Regions from separate parts of the Homo sapiens genome. Here region 1 is linked to region 2. Evidence: fine-mapped expression QTL. A gene starts in region 2. The other region holds a variant in brackets. All regions are shown on one strand. Distances are between the middles of the regions. Region 1 overlaps SLC27A2 (solute carrier family 27 member 2). Region 2 holds the start of HDC (histidine decarboxylase).

Region 1 (10,396 bases), 58 kb before region 2:
CTGCCTATCTAATAATGTAATGCTATAATTGTTCAGTATATCAAGAGACAAACTCCTTTAAAATATTTTAGGGCTGGGTGCAATGGCTCACACCTGTATTCCCAGCACTTTGGGAGGCCAAGGCAGGAGGATTGCTTGAGGCCAGGAGTTCAAGACCAGCCTGGGCAACATAGCAAACCTCATCTCTAAAAAAAATATATATATATATATATATAGCCAGGCATGGTGGCTCAAGTCTGTAGTCCCAGCTACCCAGGAGGCTGAAGTAGAAGAATTGCTTGAGTCCAAGAGTTCAAGATTGCAGTGAGCTGTGATTGCACCACTGCACTCCAGCCTGGGTGACAGAGTGAGACCTTGACTGTAAAAAAAAAAATTTTAGGTTATGACACTTGAGTCTTAGATTCTATGTCATGTCATTTCCATCTTTAGAAACTTGCATGTTAATCTCCATCAGCTTTAAACTTCTGCAGTTGTGTGCACTCTTCTGTAATCTCCCATTTCCACAGCTTTTCAGCTCTACTAGAAGGAGAGAAGATGGCAACTCCATCAGAATACTTGGCTTGGCTTGGCTTGCCATCTCTTCTGTTTCCTTCTCAGACTTTACTATTCAAATTGGAGTTGCCATCCTCTCTCCTTCCAGGAGGATTCATGTCACTTGTATACATTACCGCAAAGTTCAATAGCCAACTCTTCCAGGAAGCTATATGTAACTTTCTGACTGAGCTAAATAAACAACTTTTTCTCTCATGTGGCATTTCATTTTAAATAATCATATATGTATATATAAAAATATATACACATATGTATATACACACACATATATGCGTGTGTGTATATGCATGCATGTTATGGATGGATATTTGTGTCCCCCAAAAATGTATATGTTGAAATCCTAACCCCCAATATGATGGTATTAGCAGGTAGGGCCTTTGGGAAGTAATTGGGTCATGAGAGTAGTGCCTTCATGAAAGGTAGTGCCCTTATCAGAACAGGAGACAGCCAGCTTCTTTCCTGACTCTGTTCTGTTCCATGTAAGGACACAGGGAGATGATGACCATCCCCAAACCAGGAAAAATGCCCTCACCAGACACCAGACACCTTGATCGGGACTTCCCAGCCTCCAGAACTGCAAGAGATAAATGTTGTTTAAGCCACCCATCTGTACTATTTTGTTATAGCAGCTCAAACACACACACATACACACACACACACACAATCCAAAAATTTGAAATCCAAAATGCTCCAAAATCTGTAACTTTTTAAGCACCAGGACACCACAAGTGGAAAATACTACACATAAGTACTTAACACAAACTTTGTTTTATGCACAAAGTTATTTAAAATATTGCATGAATGGGCCAGGCACAGTGGCTTATGCCTGTAATCCCAGCACTTTGGGAGGTTGAGGTGGGCGAATCACTTGAGGTCAGGAGTTTGAGACTAGCCTGGTCAACGTGGCAAAACCCCATCCCTTCTTAAAAAATACAAAAATTAGCCAGGCATGATGGTGTCCACCTGTAATCCCAGCTACTTAGAGGCTGAGGCACGAGAACCCACAAGGCAGAGGTTGCAGTGAGCCAAGATTTCACCACTGAACTCCAGCCTGGGCAATAGAGTGAGACCCGGGCCAGGTACGGTGGCTCACGCCTGTAATCTCAGCACTTTGGGAGGCCAAGGGGTACAGATCACGAGGTCAGGAGATTGAGACCATCCTGGCTAACACAGTGAAACCCCTTCTCTACTAAAAATACAAAAAATTTGCCAGGTGTGGTGGCACGCGCCTGTAATCCCAGCTACTCAGGAGGCTGAGGCAGGAGAATCACTTGAACCTGGGGGGCGGGTGTTGCAGTGAGTCGAGATGGCACCACTGCACTCCAGCCTGGGTGACAGAGCGAGACTCTGTCTCAAAAAAAGAAAAAAAAATAGAGCAAGACTCTGTCTCAAATATATATATATAAAATACATATATATGTATGTGTGTGTGTATATATATAATATATATGTATGTGTGTGTATATATATGTATGTGTGTATATATATATACTTGAGACAGAGTCTCACTCTATTTATACATATATTTAGTATATATATAATATAATATATATATATATTGCATGAAATCTCTTTCCCTCTCCCCTCCCTCCCTCTTAGGACTTCATTTGAATCTCTTACTGCAAGCTAACTTTTATTAAAATGACCTTTGTATGAGTCTTCTCCTCCATAGATTGGAAGCCCCTATCGAACAAAACCATGTCTTACTAATTTTTTGCATTTGAATATAAGGTACTCAATACTTGTTTGCAAATATAATTTATTTTTAAATTTCTACCGTTCAAAGTTGACAAATTAAACATAACTGGGAGAATTTTTTCCACCATTTCTTTCTTGACACTTTCTGTGCTTTCTCTGTAGGTGCTACTCTTGCCTTGCGGACTAAATTTTCAGCCAGCCAGTTTTGGGATGACTGCAGAAAATACAACGTCACTGTCATTCAGTATATCGGTGAACTGCTTCGGTATTTATGCAACTCACCACAGGTAACACTCCCCCCGTTTTACTATCATTTTGAAATGGGTAAGATGGAAATTCAAGTCACTTTGGGTTGTGCTAGGCTTCAACTGATTTGCATATATCAGTTTTGAGTTTAGGATACAATTATCATGATAAAGTACTTGGCACTATACCTACCATATAGAGGGGACTTAGTAGGTGGGAGTTAATATTATTATTATGATGATGATTATTTCCTGCCTTTTTACTTGTTTTCACATCTTACTCCCCACCTAGCATATCCTGCATTTCCCCCTCTGCTTACTAAAAGCCAGTGTCAAAGCCCAGTTCAAATGATACCTCATACATTAAACATATTTGGGTCACTCCAACAAAAGTCATTACTCTTCTCCCCTACGTCATTTTATTTCTACCCTCTGTGGCCCTTGTCATGTTGCAGGAGTTTGTGTTCATGTCTCCCATCCTTCCTTGGCTGTAATATCTTTGATGGCTGGAACCACATCTTGTCTCCTTGTTTTCTGTTATACCGAAGGCATACAGGAAACTTTTACTTAATGCTGTTTAACAAATAAATCTCTGTGTGACTTTGAAACCAGCCAGCCAAGTCTGTCACCAAGCTGGGAACAGATGCCCCAGGGCATCTCCAATGGCCTTGGATCTGCCCTGTTTGCAGATGTTCAGCTCTCGATGGGGTTGTTCTCAAGAGCTCCTCCTGCCCAGTCCCTCAACTCTCATCAGAGATCTGGTATCAGATAGGATTTATCAATGGTGGCACTGCTGACATTTTGGGCTTTTAATTCTTTGCCGCGCGGACTTATTCTGTGCATTGTAGAGTGTTTAGCACCCTTTGGACTTTGCCCACGAGATGCCAGTAGTAACCTCCCCACCTCCCCAGGTCATGATCATCAAAATGTCTCCAGAAACTGCCAAATGTCTCTTGGCAGGGAAATGCTAACCTAGTTGAGAACCACTGTACTAGACAATGCAGTAAACTCACCAGATTCTAATCCCTTTCACCAGATTCTAGTTCCTTTATTCAGTCAGTTTAAACTCAAAGGATCACTAAGTTGATAAATTGCTATTGATAAGCACCTGTTGTACTCACCTAACATACCAGCTGCCGTGTGACGCAGAAAGAAGTGTCAGATGCTCTTCCCCCAGGTCTCTCTCACCTCACTTTACTCAGTCTCTGCCCAGATGTTGCCTCATTAGAAGACAGGCCTCTTCTGCTAATAATCAAACATATCATCTGCCCCTCACTGTCCAGCTTGTCACTGCATTTCATGGCACCTGTCACTCCTGACATAGTAAAGGTTTATGTGATTATTGTCTGCCCCCCCTCGCCCCAATTAAATGAAAGCCGCATATGAGCAGGGGCTCTGTCCACTACCAGATCTACGGCACCAAGATCTGTAAATGACACATCATAGGCATCAACAGATTTTGTGGACTGAACCTCTAAATCCTTGCCCCTGAAAAATGTGTAGTTGAGTTGAGGGAGCTAAAATGTTTCCCCAAAATGTTTGGGCTTAGCACATATTATTCTGATTTTTTGGCATATTCAATAGATTCTCGAGGATCATCATTAGCAGTGAGTTGGGTTAGGGTATTTTCCACAGCAGTTCTGTTCATGTCATTATTGAATTTTTTTCACATTAATATTCCACGTGGCCTCCAAGATAGCATGTCTCTCTATTAAAATCCAGAAATCCATATGGGACCCTTCTGCTGGGCTTTTCTTCTCTACCTTAAAGGCACTCCTTTGTCAGTTAGAAAATCTCCTGGGGAGTGTGTGTTGTTTCTGTATGTTCTAATGGGAGCTTCCTTTGGACTGGACGAAAATAAATATGTTTGTGTGTAGCTGTCTTCAGGCCCACACATATCCACATATACACATGCACACATACACACATGCATGCACTCTCCCAGTTTTTCTCTTACTGTTGTCTCAAATACTGGAAAACAAAGACAATTTCACTGGGGTTTTACAACTTCAAAATATACTATGATTTAATGCATAATCTTGAATGACCCCTGGACTTCCTATTTGCCAGTGCTTCCCCACCCCTGAGTTCTGTTTGGAAAATATTTATAAAAAGTATAATAAAAGATCAAAGTTATCTCAAAAAAAAACCTTCAGTTAAAGATTTTTTTAAATTATAGGTCATCAGTCCAGGCACGGTGGCTCATGCCTCTAATCCCAACACTTTGGGAGGTAGAGG[C/T]GGGCAGATCATTCAAGGTCAGGAGTTCAAGACCAGCCTGGCCAACATGGAGAAACCCAGTCTCTACTAAAAATACAAAAATTAGCGGGGCTTGTTGGCACGTGCCTGTAATCCCAACTACTCAGGAGGCTGAAGCAGGAGAGTCGCTTGAAAGCAGGAGGCAGATGTTGCTGTGAGCCAAGATTGCACCACTGCACTCAAGCCTGGGCGACAGAACAAGACCCTGTCTCAAAAAAAAAAAAAAAAGGAAAGAAAGAAAGAAAACAATCATATGTCATTAGACAAGCAGGAGATCTATGCAAATTTTTTTAAATTTAATCATAGGTCATCATAGGAAGTAGAAAGTACAGATTGTATGGGATGTAGGGAAAGATTATATCAAAAAGACTTTGCAAAAAAAAAAAAAGAATTGGATAAAAACTAGAATGAATGGGGGAAGGGCCTGGATCAATGTAATCAGGAACTTCTTCACCCTTAGAGCTGCCTAGAATACGCTGTTGCTGGAGGGACTAACCCCACCAGCGACCCCCAAGCACTGGATGCCAGGGAGGCAACCTCTGCCTTAGCAGAACAGCTAAACCAAGTGACACCCATCCACAGACATATATGGCCCAGCTCATCAGGAGAATCTGGGGCCAGTGTTGGGAGGTAGAAGCCACTGTGCTTCTCTGCCCTCTTCTTAACCATATTCAGTAGCTTCTCTAGTAGAGCAGTGGGCTATGGAGAATGCTTCCAGCCCTGCTCAGGTCAGTGGTTCAGATTTGGCCCCAGGTACTTAAAGTAATGCTGAGAGCAAGTACTCTGGAGTTAGTCGGCCTGCATTCTGACTCTGGCATTGGAGCAGGATAGTTAACCTCTCTAAATCTCAGCTTCCCGTCAGCCAACAAGGAGATAATAGTACCTACCTCACATGGGGTCTATGAAGACAACCTGAGATGATATATATAAACCACATAGTAGCTGGAACTTAGTAAATTCTCAACACATGTTGCCATTATTATCATTATCACTTTCCATGCCTAACAGTGTGTAGCTCATAATAAGTACCCCATACATATTTGTTGAATGAATCAATGAAAATTCTGCCCACTTACACAAAGGAAGAAATAAGGGAAAACATTCTACTTAGTTAATCACTCTCATCTGAGGTTGAGTAGGGGATGGGATAGCAAAGCTACTGACTTAAGTGATTTTTAAAATATTATAGTGAATATTTTCTATTTTGCCGTCTTCCCGCATTGTATTTGGGCCTTTGCTTTCAAAGCGACTGTTTGTAATGAAAGGCCATTCTGATTCATTTCTTGCAGTGTATGGTTGTCAGCTCCCATTCGGTTTTTGTAGTTGCCTAAAAACAATGTCATCTAGGGAAAGTTATTTATTGGAGCATGATATTGCTAAAGCTCAGTGTTTCTTTCCTCCAGTTACAGACTGAAGCTACAGTCTGTACTGGACAAGGCTCCAGTACAGGGGTCTCAATGAGGCTTTATGACACCTGCTGGAGTGTGGGAGGAGGAAGACAGAAAGGGAACCAAAAAAGAGTTCCAGGGGCCACACATAGAACCATGATATTTGGAAGGAGAAATAATATTGGCCAGAACCCTGAAAAAGCTGAATAGATTCAACTTACCTCTAGTGTTGACTGCGTCCCCCCAGAATTAGATAACCTCTGTGGTCCCTTCTAGCCTAAAATTTCTGTCTCTGCATCAGCTTCATTCTGTTCAAAAAAGAGAATGGATGGATCTGTTGCAGCACAGAGTGGAGAGTGGCCAATATGACTGGGGCCCAAGACAGAGGGAGGCCAAAAGAAAGAGGGAAGGGGAGCAGAATCAGGAAGGTTCGCCAGGGAAGGTGGGCTTTGAAGAGTACGGAGAAGTTCTGCAGCCAGGCAAGAAAAGAAGGGCTTCTGGCTAGCAGGAAAATCACGTGAGCAGTGAGATGAAGGACCCAGCACACTGGGAACTGCAAGCAGTCTGGCAGGAGGTGAAGCTGAGGGGCTGGGTCAGGTGGCAAGGGCTTTACTCTGCTGAGACTCAAATGTGAACATGACAAGCCATGACTAAAGGGCCTTACATGGAAGAGCAATGTGGGAGATGGCATTTTTAGACAGTCCTTTTGGCTACGATGTGAGAATACACAGAAGGATGAAGGGCCTCTTCTGTAAAGCAAACAGGTGGAGCCTTGTCCAGGCAGAAGTGTAACATATTAATTATTAAGAACAGGGACTCTGGAGTTTTTCTAAGGTGATAAAGACCTTCTTCCCTTTCACCTCTTGGAAGTCACCCCAAAACAAGGCGATGAGAAAAACACACACAAGCACCATCATCTCAGAAACTAAGAGACATTGCAACCATGAACTACATAGTATAGGAAGCTAAAAGATAACAGTGACTGACATAGTAGGCTGAGAAGGGTGAAACTTAAGAGGCAAGTCCCAACAGGAAGGAAGCCAGTTGCCTTCCTGAAGGCTGAGAAATTGCAGGCTTTGAATACAGCTGAAGGTGGGATGAAGTGTCAGACTTAAAACAGGGGAGTTATTTGAAAATCTGTGTAAGAAGTAAAATACGGAGGACAGGATCATGGCGAGCGGGAGGCAGGACTAGATTGTGGCTCCAGACAGAGCAGCATGAGAGGCTCACATTGTGAATTTTAGCTCCAGCTTGACTGCAAGAACTAACCAGCAACCCCAAGAGGACCCACAGACCCTCTGAAAGAAGTGGATTGCTCCTAGAGGACCCGGGAGACACCCCAAATACTGTGATCGCCCCAACTGCAGAAGTGGGAAAGGGAGACCCTCATCTCCCGAACACATACTGGAGAAGCTGAAGGTCTGTTTGTAGAACTTCCCGACTTTACCTGGAGCCTCGTCAAGTTAGAGAGCCAAACCGAGCAAAATACAAAGGTAGAGGAAGCTGCAGAAAGGCCCTGGGAGCTCACTGGCTCCCCTAGCAGCCCATTCCCGCCTGGCACCACAGGGATCCATCAGGAGGGTGGCCAGAGGAGCAGGGGGCAAAACTCCACAGGGAGAAGGAATTCTCTAGCTAAACTTTGGGATAATTTGAACGGGGCAAGAAGACTCCTGGCCAGAACTCCAGGGAGGGTGTGAATCTGGCTTGCAGACTCCACAGGCGGAGAAGAACTAAAGCCCTTTCTTTAACAGCTGGGAGGCAGAAAGCCTTGGGCAAGTTTTCAAGCCTGACTCGCCCTCCACCTGGAAACAGACTCGGGGCCGTTGAGGGGGCACGGTGGGAGTGAGACCAGCCCTTCAGGTTGCCTGGAAGCTGGGTGAGGCCTGTGACTGCCAACTTTCCCCCACTTCCCTGACAACCTGCATGACTCAGCAGAGACAGCCATAATCCTCTTAGGTACACAACTCCAGTGACCTGGGAATCTCGCCCCCATCCCCCACAGCAGCCACAGCAAGACCTGACCAAGGAGAGTCTGAGCTCAGACAGGCCTAGCCCTGGCCCCACCTGATGGTCCTTCCCTATCCACCTTGGTATCAGAGGACAAAGAACATATAATCTTAGGAATTCTAGGGCCCTGCCCACTGCTGGTGCCTGTCCACACTATTACAGCTGATGCTTTCTGGAAAGTACCACCTCCTGGCAGGAGGCCAACAGCACAAAACAGGGAATTAAACCACCAAAGTTAAGGATCCCATGGAGTCATTGCATCCTCTGCCACTTCCACTGGAACAGGTGCTGGTATCCATGGCTGAGAGACCCATAAATCATTCACATCACAGGACTCTGTTCAGACAACCCCCAGTACCAGCCCAGAGCCAGGTAGACTTGCTGGGTGGCTAGACCCAGAAGAGAGACAACAATCACTGCAGTTCGGCTCACAGGAGCCACATCCATAGGAAAAGGGGGAGAGTATTACATCAAAGGAACACCCCATGGGACAAAATTCTGAACAACACCCTTCAGCCCTAGACCTTCCATCTGACAGAGCCTACCCAAATGAGAAGGAATCAGAAAACCAACCCTGCTAATATGAAAAGCCAAGGCTCATCAACATCCCCAAAAGATCACACTAGTTCACCAGCAACGAATCCAAACCAAGAAGAAATCCCTGATTTGCCTGAAAAATAATTCAGGAGGTTAGTTATTAAGCTAATCAGGGAGGAACCAGAGAAATATGAAGCCCAATGCAAGGAAATCCAAAAAAACGTTACAAGAGTGAAAGGAGAAATATTCAAGCAAATAGATAGCTTAAAGAAAAAAACAGGGCCAGGCATGGTGGCTGAAGCCTGTAATCCCAGCACTTTGGGAGGCTGAGGCAGGCAGATCACAAGGTCGGGAGATTGAGACCATCCTGGCTAACACAGTGAAACCCCTTCTCTACTAAAAATACAAAAAAATTAGCTGGAGTGGTGGCAGGCACCTGTAGTCCCAGCTACTCGGGAGGCTGAGGCAGGAGAATGGCATGAACCTGGGAGGCAGAGCTTGCAGTGAGCCAAGATCGCGCCACTGCACTCCAGCCTGGGAGACAGAGTGAGACTCTGTCTCAAAAAAAAAAAAAAAAAAAAGTAAATGAAAAAAACAAGCAAAAATTCAGGAAACTTTGGACACACTTTTAGAAATGCTAAATGCTCTGGAAAGTCTCAGCAATAGAATTGAACAAGTAGAAGAAAGAAATTCAGAGCTCGAAGTCAAGGTCTTTGAATTAACCCAATAAATAAAGACAAAGAAAAAATAATAAGGAAATATGAACAAAGCCTCCAAGAAGTCTAGGATTAAAAGACCAAACCTAAGAATACTTGATGTTCCTGAGGAAGAAGACAATTCTAAACACTTGAAAAACATATTTGGGTGAATAATTGAGGAAAACTTCCAAGCCTTGCTAGACCTAGACATGCAAATACATGAAGCACAAAGAACACCTGGGAAATTCATCACATAAAGATCTTTGCCTAGGCACATTGTCATCAGGTTATCCAAAGTTAAGACCAAGGAAAGAATCTTAAGAGCTGTGAGACAGAAACACCTGGTGACCTACAAAGGAAAACCTATTAGATTAACAGATTTCTCAGCAGAAACCCTACAAGCTAGAAGGGATTGGGGCCCTATCTTCAACCACCTCAAACAAAACAAGTGTAAGCCAAGAATTTTGTATCCAGCAAAACTAAGCATCATATATGAAGAAAAGATACAGTCGTTTTCAGACAAACAAATGCTGAGAGAATTCGCCATTACCACGTTACCACTACAAGACCTGCTAAAAGAAGCTCTAAATCTTGAAACAAATCCTGCAAACACATCATAACACAACCTCTTTACAGTATAAATCACACAAGACCTATAAAACAAGAATACAAGTGAAAAAGCAAACAACAAAAAAACAAAAGTTCACAGGCAACAAAGAGCATGATGAAAGCAACAGTACCTCACATTTCAATACTAACATTGAATGTAAATGGCCTAAATGCTCCACTTAAAAGATACAGAACTGCAGAATGGATAAGAACTCACCAACCAACTGCTGCCTTCAGGAGACTCACCTAGCACATAAGGACTCACATAAACTTAAAGTAAACAGGTAGAAAAAGGCATTTCATGTGAAAGGACATGAAAAGTGAGCAGAGGTAGCTATTCCTATATCAGACAAAACAAACTTTAAAGCAACAGTGGTTAAAAGAGACAAACAGAGACAGTATAGAA
Region 2 (10,396 bases):
AGATGAGTTGAGAGATTTGACCATCATTATCACTGTCCTTAGTGACAGTATTTTGGAAACCCCAGAGAAGGGCTTCTACCTCCTAGCTCTATCAAGAGACAATAGTCTGTTCTTGTAAGATAAATAAGATAAAATAGCCAGAAGAGCCCTTATCAAAAACAAACAGACCTCTTTCCAGAAATGAGCCTCACCGACCATACCCACAGCAACTGCTGGAATTCCTCTTGATCAAATGAATCAGCTCATTTCCACCTCTTCTGACAGTTGCTTTCAGTCTCACTCCCAGATTACAGTTAGCCCCTCAGCAGATTACATTTTACAGAATAAAATCCAGGAGATAATCTTATCAGGATCTAGCCTCCGTAAAGCCTTACTGATATTGACATTTTCAAAAAATGCTTGTGAAATAGGCTGAATGGTCAAAGAGATGAGTGGCTTTGTATGAAATTGCCCTCATGGCCAGGCGTAGTGGCTTAGGCCTCTCATCCCAACACTTTGGAAGGCCGAGGCAGGAGGATCACTTGAGCCCAGGAGTTGGAGACCAGCTTGGGCAACATAGCAAGACCTTGTCTCTATTGCTTCAAAAAAAAAAAAAAAAAAAAGTCAAAATTGCCATCACTTTCTGAGTTTGAATATTTTCCCACCCCTGCCTCTAGGCATATTTTTGTCACTTTTTTTTTTTTTTGAGATGGAGTTTCGCTCTTGTTGCCCAGGCTGGAGTGCAACGGCGCTATCTCAGCTCACCGCAACCTCCGCCTCCCGGGTTCAAGCGATTCTCCTACCTCAGCCTCCCAAGTAGCTGGGATTACAGGCATGTGCCACCATGCCCAGCTAATTTTGTATTTTTAGTAGAGACGGGGTTTCTCCATGTTGGTCAGGCTGGTCTTGAACTCCCGACCTCAGGTGATCCACCTGCCTTGGCCTCCCAAAGTGCTGGGATTACAGGTGTGAGCCCCCGCGCCTGGCCTTTTTGTCACATTGAAGTCAAAAGTTCTTTGGGAATGATGAAGGCAAACCTCAAGCTGGCCTCAGGAAGAGCCTCTAAACATGTGTGGTTCAGAACACAAATGCCCCAAGCAGGGAGAGGGAAGACACAGCTTGTGTGGGGGTGTGGAGCCAGACAGGCAATGCTAGGGGCCCAGGCTTAGCCAGGCACATTCAGGCACCCACCAGTAGAGGTGACAGAGGGTAGGAGAAACGGCACAGCCTGTGAAGTAAGACTGGTCTAGGGTAAAATCCTGGATCTACCAGGTACTAATTCTGTGACTTTGGGCAAGACAGTTAACTTCTCTGAGCATCAGCAGTTTCCTCATCTGTAAAACAGGGCCACTGGGAAGATTAAATTAGATAGCATGTCATGTGGCCAGCACAGAGCTGGCACATGGCAGGGAGCCCCGCCACAGGAAGGGAGTCGATGCCACTTTAGCATGAGCACCATGGCAGAGCTCCTCACCGCCAGTGGTCAGGGGTGTCCACCACCCATCAAGGCAGGCTCCAGCTCAAGCCCATGCATCAGCCAGCTTCCATCAGCTTCCTGGCCCCACCAGCACTATCCCAGGCTGCACCCTCCATCATGGAAAGTATCAATGATTCAGGGAAAGTCCCTTCTTGCTCTTGAAAAGCAGCTCAATCACCAGACCTCAGAGGGGACAGGAGGGGTTGCCAGGGCCCACTCAGTTTCCTGGGCCAACGCAACCTGGTCACCAGCGTGTCCTTGCCAGGATGTGTTCCCCACTTCCTTCCTTCTCTTTGGTGTGGTCTCAGACACTGTACAGAAGAGTCTCTGGCTCCGTCGTCAGGGCCAGGCACTACCACCAGCTTCCTCTCCCCTGTCTTACTATACACAGTTGTCCTTTCCCCTCAGACAAAATGTTCACTTCTCCACCCATCCCATTAGACTTCCACACTTCTGCCAGGCTGTGCTCTGGAATGCAGGTGTTCTGGCCAGCCCTGCCCTGGCATCAGAAACCTCATGCCATGGCACAACTGGGCAAAAAAAAAGAAAAAGAAACCTAATACCAGTCAAAGTCCTGCCCTCCACATGCCTAGCAGATGGGCTGGGGTGTTGGTGGCCAAGTGGCTGAAGGATGCATTCTCATCCCAAGCTGACCCAAAGCAGGTCTTTCTCCAGGCCACCACCCACCCTTCTGTGCCCTGAAATCCAGAACTGCCCTTGTGGTCACTGTGTCTCACCCCAGGCATGATGATTCGTTCAATGTCCCCAAAGATGCTGTCCCAGCTGTCGGGGTCCTCAGGAGCACTCTCAGGCAGCTGGGCTCGCAGGTAGCCAGGCTGCACGTCTGGCGTCACACGTCTCTCCCGCACAGTGCTCAGGTACTGGCAGATGTAATCCACCATCTCTCTCCCTAGAAGTGACATAGAGAAATCAGGCTGAAATCCCCTGACTGGGCCTGACCGATTTGTGCCCATCCCTCTCAGGTCCGGGCCAAGAGACTTGGTAAAGAAGGAGATGGATTTGGCCGGGCACAGTGGCTCATGCCTGTAATCCCAGCACTTTGGGAGGCTGAGGCAGGCGGATCACGAGGTCAGGAGATCAAGACCATCCTGACTAACATGGTCAAACCCCTCTCTACTAAAAATACAAAAAATTAGCCGGGCGTGGTGGCAGGCGCATGTAATCCCAGCTACTTGGGAGGCTGAGGCAGGAGAATCGCTTGAACCTGGGAGACGGAGGTTGCAGTGAGCCGAGATCGTGCCACTGCACTCCAGCCTGGACTCAAAAAAAAGAGAGAGACAGATTCATGGGCCGAGGGTAGGATCTGATCCCCTGCACGACCTTATCTTCAGAATTTAAAAAAAGAGTGAGGGAGTGAATGAATGATGGAGGGAGTTTCTAAGTGAGCAAATGAACAAAAAGGAAAATCTCCAAAGCACAAAACTCTAGCGCCAAAGTGAAACGTTTCATTTTCTTTCCCCTTCCTTTATCCACTTCAATTTTGATTGTCTCTCCTACCTTTCTTTCCTTCTCAGAAACAGAACATCTATTAACTATTTTATAGGTTCAATAGAAACTCTATAGCTCTTTGTATCCAAAAATTGTTACACACACACCCACCAGTTATATCTGTTAGCACAGATAGAAAGATTCCATGCCCAGTTCCGATAAAGGACAAAAAAATCTATTTTTTCACCATCCCCATTGAATCAGTTATTATTCATCTTTTTTGGACTCATATGAGGACTTAATTCAAGAATCTGATTAAAACTGTAGGCTTACATATACACAGAACTTTGTGTATAATTTCTGAGGCTCACAGAATCCCTAAAGCACAACCATGGATCCAGACCAAGCCCCCTGCCCTGGCCTGGGAAATGTGGCACCAAATCTTAATGACTTTCTCTCCCTCCTGCTGCCTCCATCAACACCTCAGTGCTTAGGATATTTTTTAGATGCTAAAAAAAAATGTATCAAGTGAATGAACATATGAGTAAGGAAGGAAAAAAAAGTCAAGTTGAACACTCTGAAACTATTGCAAATTATTTATTCTTTCAGATTGCAGTCTTCAGTGCCTCTGTTGCTGTGTGTGCATGTGTGTGTGTGTACATATCTCTTTGTCTGTCTCAACATCCATTCCTTAGTACTCCCTGGGCTGCTTTTACCTAGGAGAGGGGACTCAGTTTCTCCCCTCTGCATCAGCTTATGCAAAGTTCTTAAGAACAGAACCAACCCCAGACAAAACTTATGAGACAAAGGTAGATTTCCACACCATTCTATCTTCCTTCTGCTCCCCTTCAACCCTCTCACATCCTGGTTCTTCTCCAGCAGGGCCCCACCAGAGATCTGAGAGCTCTAGACCTAACCCTCCACTGATCCAGGAACAGTGCTAAATGTATTTGTGTTCCACTCAGAAGATAAATATCCACAGGAACTTGCTCTCAGCTGACAGTGCCTTAGGAAAGCAATGGAATAAGCTAACGCACACTAATTAGTGAGTAGGAGGATATAAAACATTATAGAAATAGACATTCAAGATTCTTTTTTAAGCAACTACCTACTTTCCTGCTAAGGGAGATCCATGCCTGAGAACTGGATAACCACTTGGTTTTGCCTGATACAGAGTAGGCACCTACTAAATATTTATGAAATGAATGACTAAATGAAAGAACACTGCTGATAGATTCACACATGAAGGAATGAATGTTAAGAAAGAAAGGATTTGCAGTGATTACAGAATATTGAGAAAATTTTTTTCTATTTCAGAATATGAACAATCCCCTTTTCCCATCTAGTGGCTCAGGGATCCAAATCCTCAATTTTGTGGGAAAGTGGGGAGGAAAAGCAAGGCACGGTAGTGTGGACATATGTGAGAGTGGGTATATGAGAGGGAGAATGAAAGAGTGGTTGAGAAAAGTTTTACACTCTGATCCCACATTCCTTTCGCAGAAAAAAAAATGTTGCTGGTGCCAACTCTCAGAAGGCAATTCTAATGCTCCCATCAAATGTCACCCCAGAATCTAAGGGCCACCCACCAGCAGCCGTTCCTGCAGGAGTAGCAGCAGGGAAGAGGGCCAGGGATGCCCGTTGCTCACCTCTCTCTCTGTACTCCTCAGGCTCCATCATCTCCCTTGGGCTCTGGCTCCTTCTCACAGATGGACACGCAGGAGGTGGAAGGCGTGAAAGGCGTGGAGCAGCCCGGCTTCCCTCTTGCCAGTCCTGCGCACTCCCTGGCAGCCAGTGTGGGCCCTTTATTTAAAGGGTTCTTTCTTTGACCTTAGCTCCGCCCTTCAAAGTCCCTTCCTCCAGGTTTAATTAATTCCACCCTTTCTTTCCCCAGTCCTTGTAGAAAACAGCGACCACAACTTTGACTGGTCAAGAGAGCCAGGATAAAAGGCGCTTCTAAATTAAGCAGTGCACTTAGCAACCCAAGCCTGCAGGCAGCCTCCAGGTGGATGCCGTAAAAGAGCCCTCAGTTCTTTCTGCCCCTGGATTCAGACAATAGAGCTCCAGCCTCAGACAAGCTCCCAGCTCAGTAGACCAGAATAAGGCCAAGGGTATGCAGAAAAAGTAGCACAAATTATTAGTATTATTCCTGCCCCTGTTTCCTTATCAGCAGTAGGGAGGGAGGAACAGGCACTAATAGTGATGCCCCCTGTGCCCAGGAACAGGCAGAAGTTATCATTGACCACAATGGATTTTTCTATTACAACATACTATCTGTTGTTGCAAAGAATGAAAAAACACAGTTATAAGCCAAAAAGAATAGAAATTAAAACATCACCCCAAATTAATCACTTTTAGCACTTAAAGAAGTAGAAGGGGGGCGTGTAAAGGGACCTGCAGAAACCCCTGTAGGGAGGGGAAACACTATCCTTGGGGTTTGATTTCTGAGTAAAAAGTAATCCAACGTTTTCACGTTGCTAAATGCAATAGTCTTTCTTGTTTATTTGTTTCCAGTCGTCCTTCTGGTTCTCTTGGTGGCATTTTATTTGTTACTACTTCATCCTTGCAGCTCACAGTTTCTCTGGGCTTTCCTCCTACATCTCTGGCTGTTTGTTTCCTCCAATGCTGGCACACCTCAGGGCATTGCCCTCCTTTCATCTTTCTGCTTTGGTGGCATTGCCCATTTCTAAGGCTTTTTTTGTTTTGTTTTGTTTAGACGGAGTCTTGCTCTGTCGCCCAGGCTGGAGTGCAGTGGCACAATCTTGGCTCACTGCAACCTCTGCCTCCCGGGTTCAAGCAATTCTCCCACCTCAACCTCCTGAGTAGCTGGGCCTACAGGTATGTGCCACCATGCCCCACTAATTTTTGTGTTTTTAGCAGAGATGGGGTTTCACCATGTTGGCTGGGTTTGTCTCGAACTCCTGACCTCAAGTGATCCACCCGCCTCAGCCTCCCAAAGTGCTGGGATTACAGGTGTGAGCCACTGCGCCCGGCCCATTTCTTAGGCTTGAAATGTTACCTATGTGATATCCGTATAGGTTTAAACATACCATCAGGCCCTCCCTGTCTTTTGAGCTTCAAAATCTTATATCCAACTGCCTTTCTGACAAATCCTCTCTTATGACTCTGAGGCACCTCAAACTTAACGTATTGCAAAACTGTCTTTCCCCAAAAATATGCCCCACTTCTAGTCTTCCCCATCTCAGTTCATCATCTCTCCATTTTCCATCCACCCATCTATTCACCCCTTGACCGTCCATTCATCCAACCACTCATCCATCCAACCACCATCCATGCATCCATCTATCCTTTCATCCATCCATTCATCCACCCAAATGCTGAAGGCATAAACCTGGTGTCTTCCTTCCCCTTCACTTTCCCTGCTCCCTGCCCAATTCAATCTGTTCAGATTCAGTTCTATTTCCAAAATAAATCTAGTCTGTCAAATTCTCCCCATTTCCATGACTACCACCCTATTCCGGTCCAAGCCACCATTATCCTTCACCTAGACTAATGCAGGAGGCTTCTCATTGGCCTGTTACTGACCATGGGTTCTTGGGCTCTCAATGTAATAGAAATTGAGAAGGCCAAAAGAGTTTTCCCAGACAGGGCATTATCAGAGCTTATGCCCAGGCATAAGGGAGACAGCACGAGAGAGAGAATTCTCTGGCAGGCTCCTTGAAGAGAGTCAGGAAAGTAATTTTAGGCTAAAATAGGTAGGAAATTTTTTAATTACTACTGAAAAAACTACAGTGAGAAATCACTTCATACAGACTATGATGACTATAATAAAAAAGATAGATAACAACAAGTATTGGTGAAGACAGGGAAAAATTAGAACCCTCATACTTTACTGGTGGGAATGTAAAATGGCACAGCCATTTTGGAAAATAATCTGGAAGCTCCCCAGAAAGCTAAACCTAGAGTTCTTTATGACTCAACAATTCTACTGCTAGGTGTATATCCAAGGAAAATGAAATCATGTCCACACAAAAACGTATACATGGGTGTTCATAGCAGAATTATTATAATAGACAAAAATGGAAATAATCCAAATGTTCAGATGAATGAATGAAACGTAGTATATCAATACAACAGAATATTATTCCATGATAAAAAGGAATGAAGTACTGATACATACCAAAACATGGATGAACTTGGAAACATACTAAGTGAAAGAAACTAGTCACAAGGAACCATATATTATATTATTTCATTCATATGAAATATCGAGAATAGACAAATCTACAAAATAGATTCATGGTTAGAAGTGGGTAGGGAGCTGAAGATTGATGGCTAAGGAGAACAGGGATTTTTGGCAGGGTGGTAAGATGAAAATGTTCAAAATTGTTGGGTTTTGGTTTTGTTTTATTTTGCTTCGTTTTATTTTGCTTTGTTTTGTTTTGTTTTGAGATGGAGTCTCACTCTGTGGCCCAGGCTGGATTGCAGTGGTGCAATCTCGGCTCACTGAAACCTCTGCCTCCTGGGTTCAAGCAATTCTCCTGCCTCAGCCTCCTGAGTAGCTGGGATTACAGGCGTGAGCCACTGCGCCCTGCTGAAAATGTTTTAAAATTTATTATGGTGATGGTTGCACACTTCTGTGGATATACTAAAAGCTATTAAACTGTACACTTCAAACGAGGAAATTTTATAGAATGGGAATTATATCTCAATAAAACTGTTGATTTAAGAAAAAAAAAAGCCCTAAGAAAATAAGGGCATTGGTGAAAAAATGGCCTAGAGGATTTAGATTCCAGTGATATTGTCAATAAATCCTTCATTAGGAGCCAGGGTGGGAAAAATAATAATATTGACAACGATATGGGAGGTAAAAAATTTGATCTCATGGAGGTAGAGAATAAAATGATAGTTACCAGAGACTGGAAAGGGTTGGTGGGAGCTGGGGGTGAGGAATAAGTAGAGATTGGTTAATTGGTACAAACATATAATTAGATGGAATTCAATAATATTCAATAGCACATTAGGATGACTATAGTTAATAATTTATTGTATATTTCAAAATAGCTAGATTTGGAATGTTCTGAACACAAAGAAAAATGTTTGAGATGATGGATATCTTAAATATCCTGATTTGATCATTACACACATTGTATGCATGTATCAAAATATCACATATACTCCATAAACAGGTACAAATATTATGTGTCAATTTTAGAAAGTGCCAAGCACCAAGTTAGGCATTTTTATTTTTATTTTTATTTTTATTTGTTGAGACAGGGTCTCACTCGTCAACCAGGCTGAAGTATAGTGATGCGATCACAGCTCATTGCAGCCTTGACTTCCAGGCCCTGGTAATTCTGCCACCCCCACCTCCTGAGTAGCAAGGACGACAGGCATGTGCTACCACACTCAGATGATTATTGTTTTTTATTTCTTGGAGTTTTTCTGTAGAGATGGGGTTTCGCCATGTTACCCAAGTTGGTCTTGAACTCCTGGGCTCAAATGATCCACCCATCTCAGCCTCCCAAAGTGTTGGGATTACAGGTGTCAGCCACCACACCCAGCCAAGTTAGGCACTTTAAATAAAAAAGTGTTCGTTATTTTTTCTCCAAGTGTTGCTATCTCCCCATTATCTCTCTTCTATTCTGCAAATGCAGTCCTATGTTAAACTTGTGTATTATATATACTATTATATATAAATATAAATAGCATTGTATTCTTTATTTTCCATCTTCTTGTTTCTGAGTTGGTTTGAAAATATTTTTCTTTTTTAGTTGTCTCTTCAAATGTAGCTAATATAATAAACCATTTATTGATTTCTTAATATCAGATATTATATTTTTTCAGTTGTAGAATTTGTATTTCTTCTGCCTTATGGGGGCAAAAAAAGAATTTTTATTTGGTTCCTTTTTATAGTTTTCAACTCCTTGCCAAATTTTTAAATCTGGCCTTTTATTTCATTGAACATAGTGGATGATTTTTTTAAATTGCTACTGAACAATATAAAAAAAGACCTGTACAGATGAAAAGACGTACCATGCTCTCTCATGGAGTAAGATTTAACATCATGAAATAATGGTTTTCCCCTAAGTTAACCCGAAAATTTAACATAATCCCAGTGGAAAAATCAACAGGTTTTTGGGTGTTCTATTTTGGAATTCAGTGCCAACTTTTAAAGTTCTTAGGAAAAATAAACCAGAATAAAGAAGAAAATTTTGTAAGAGTAACGAGAAGGTTCTGTTCCTACCCAGAAGTATTAAAATGTATCCTGAAGCTCGAATAATTAGAACAATGAGGTAGATACTGGTGTACAAAGAGACAAACAAAAGGAGCAAATAAATTTAAACATGTACAGAAATTTAGCATATAATAAAGATAGCATCTCAGATCAGAAAGAAAAAGATGGACTATTTAATAAATTGTCCTAGAACAAGGTATAGCCATCTGGAAAGAAAAATAAGCTGTATCTATCTTTCACATCGTGCACTTAGATAAATTCCAGAAAAGTCAGATCTAAATGTGAAAAATGGAAGCATAAAATTACAGGAAACCATCACCACCATCAGGTTAACTGATGGCTTCATGGGTGTGTACACATGTCCAAACTCATCAAATAGTAGTAAATATATGCTATTTTTGTATATCAATTATGCATCAATAGAGCTGTTTTTAAAAGATGAAAATTAAATTAAGAAAATTAGAAGATTCCCTGGACAACCTCAGAGTAAAGAATACATTTATAACTATGGTTCAATGCCAGAAACCATAAATCCAATCACATTTTTTTAAAACCATAAGAAAAATCAAGATAAATGACAAACTGAGAAAATATATTTGCAACATATTTGCACAATGGGCAAATTTGTCTAATCTATGAAGAATTTCACATCAAGAAGAAAAGAGGTCAGGCACAGTGGCTCATGCCTGTAATCCCAGAGCACTTTGGGAGGCCAAGACAGGTGGATCACCTGAACTCAGGAGTTTGAGACCAGCCTGGGTAACATCGCGAAACCCCATCTCTACCAAAAATAAATAAATAAATTAGCTGGGCATGGCGGCGTGTGCCTGTAGTCCCAGCTACTTGGGAGGCTGTGGCGGGAGGATCGCTTGAGCCTGGGAGGTTGAGGTTGCAGTGAGCCGTGATAGCGCCACTGCACCCCAGCCTGGGTGACAGAATGAGACCCTGTCTCAAAAAAAACAAAAAGTGATTTCCTTTTTTTGCACATAAAGGCAAATATATACTATATTCTAATTTTTCTCCTTTTCTTTCTTTTGTTAAACACAAAAGGGATAAGTACAGTACAATATTCTGTACTTTATTTGTTAATATATCTTGACACGTACTCCTTTTTTTCATAGAGCTGCATTGCGTGGACATACCAGAGAGTAATCAGTTCCCTAGCAGTGTACATTTCAGTTGTTTCCAGTCTTTTGCTATTACAAACATTTCTACAAAAAATTGCTTTGCACACATGAGTAAGGATATCCTGAAGTGGAACAGCTGGATCAAAAGGCATGTATATTTGCAGCTTT

Evidence for each region.
Region 1: its variant is fine-mapped to the expression of HDC in whole blood (TOPMed, PIP above 0.99).

The regions. Positions count from the first base shown.
Region 1 is chr15:50,202,827-50,213,222 of GRCh38, forward strand. It overlaps SLC27A2 (solute carrier family 27 member 2), which reads left to right. Exons shown (of 10, transcript NM_003645.4): 4 at 2,413-2,537. Among named protein-coding and RNA genes, the nearest start is that of SLC27A2, 26 kb to the left of the region's middle. RefSeq lists an enhancer at 7,931-8,510. The variant C/T (reference allele first, on the strand shown) is at 4,734.
Region 2 is chr15:50,261,042-50,271,437 of GRCh38, forward strand. HDC (histidine decarboxylase) reads right to left here and starts at 4,685. Exons shown (of 12, transcript NM_002112.4): 1 at 4,552-4,685; 2 at 2,194-2,366. The coding sequence starts at 4,582.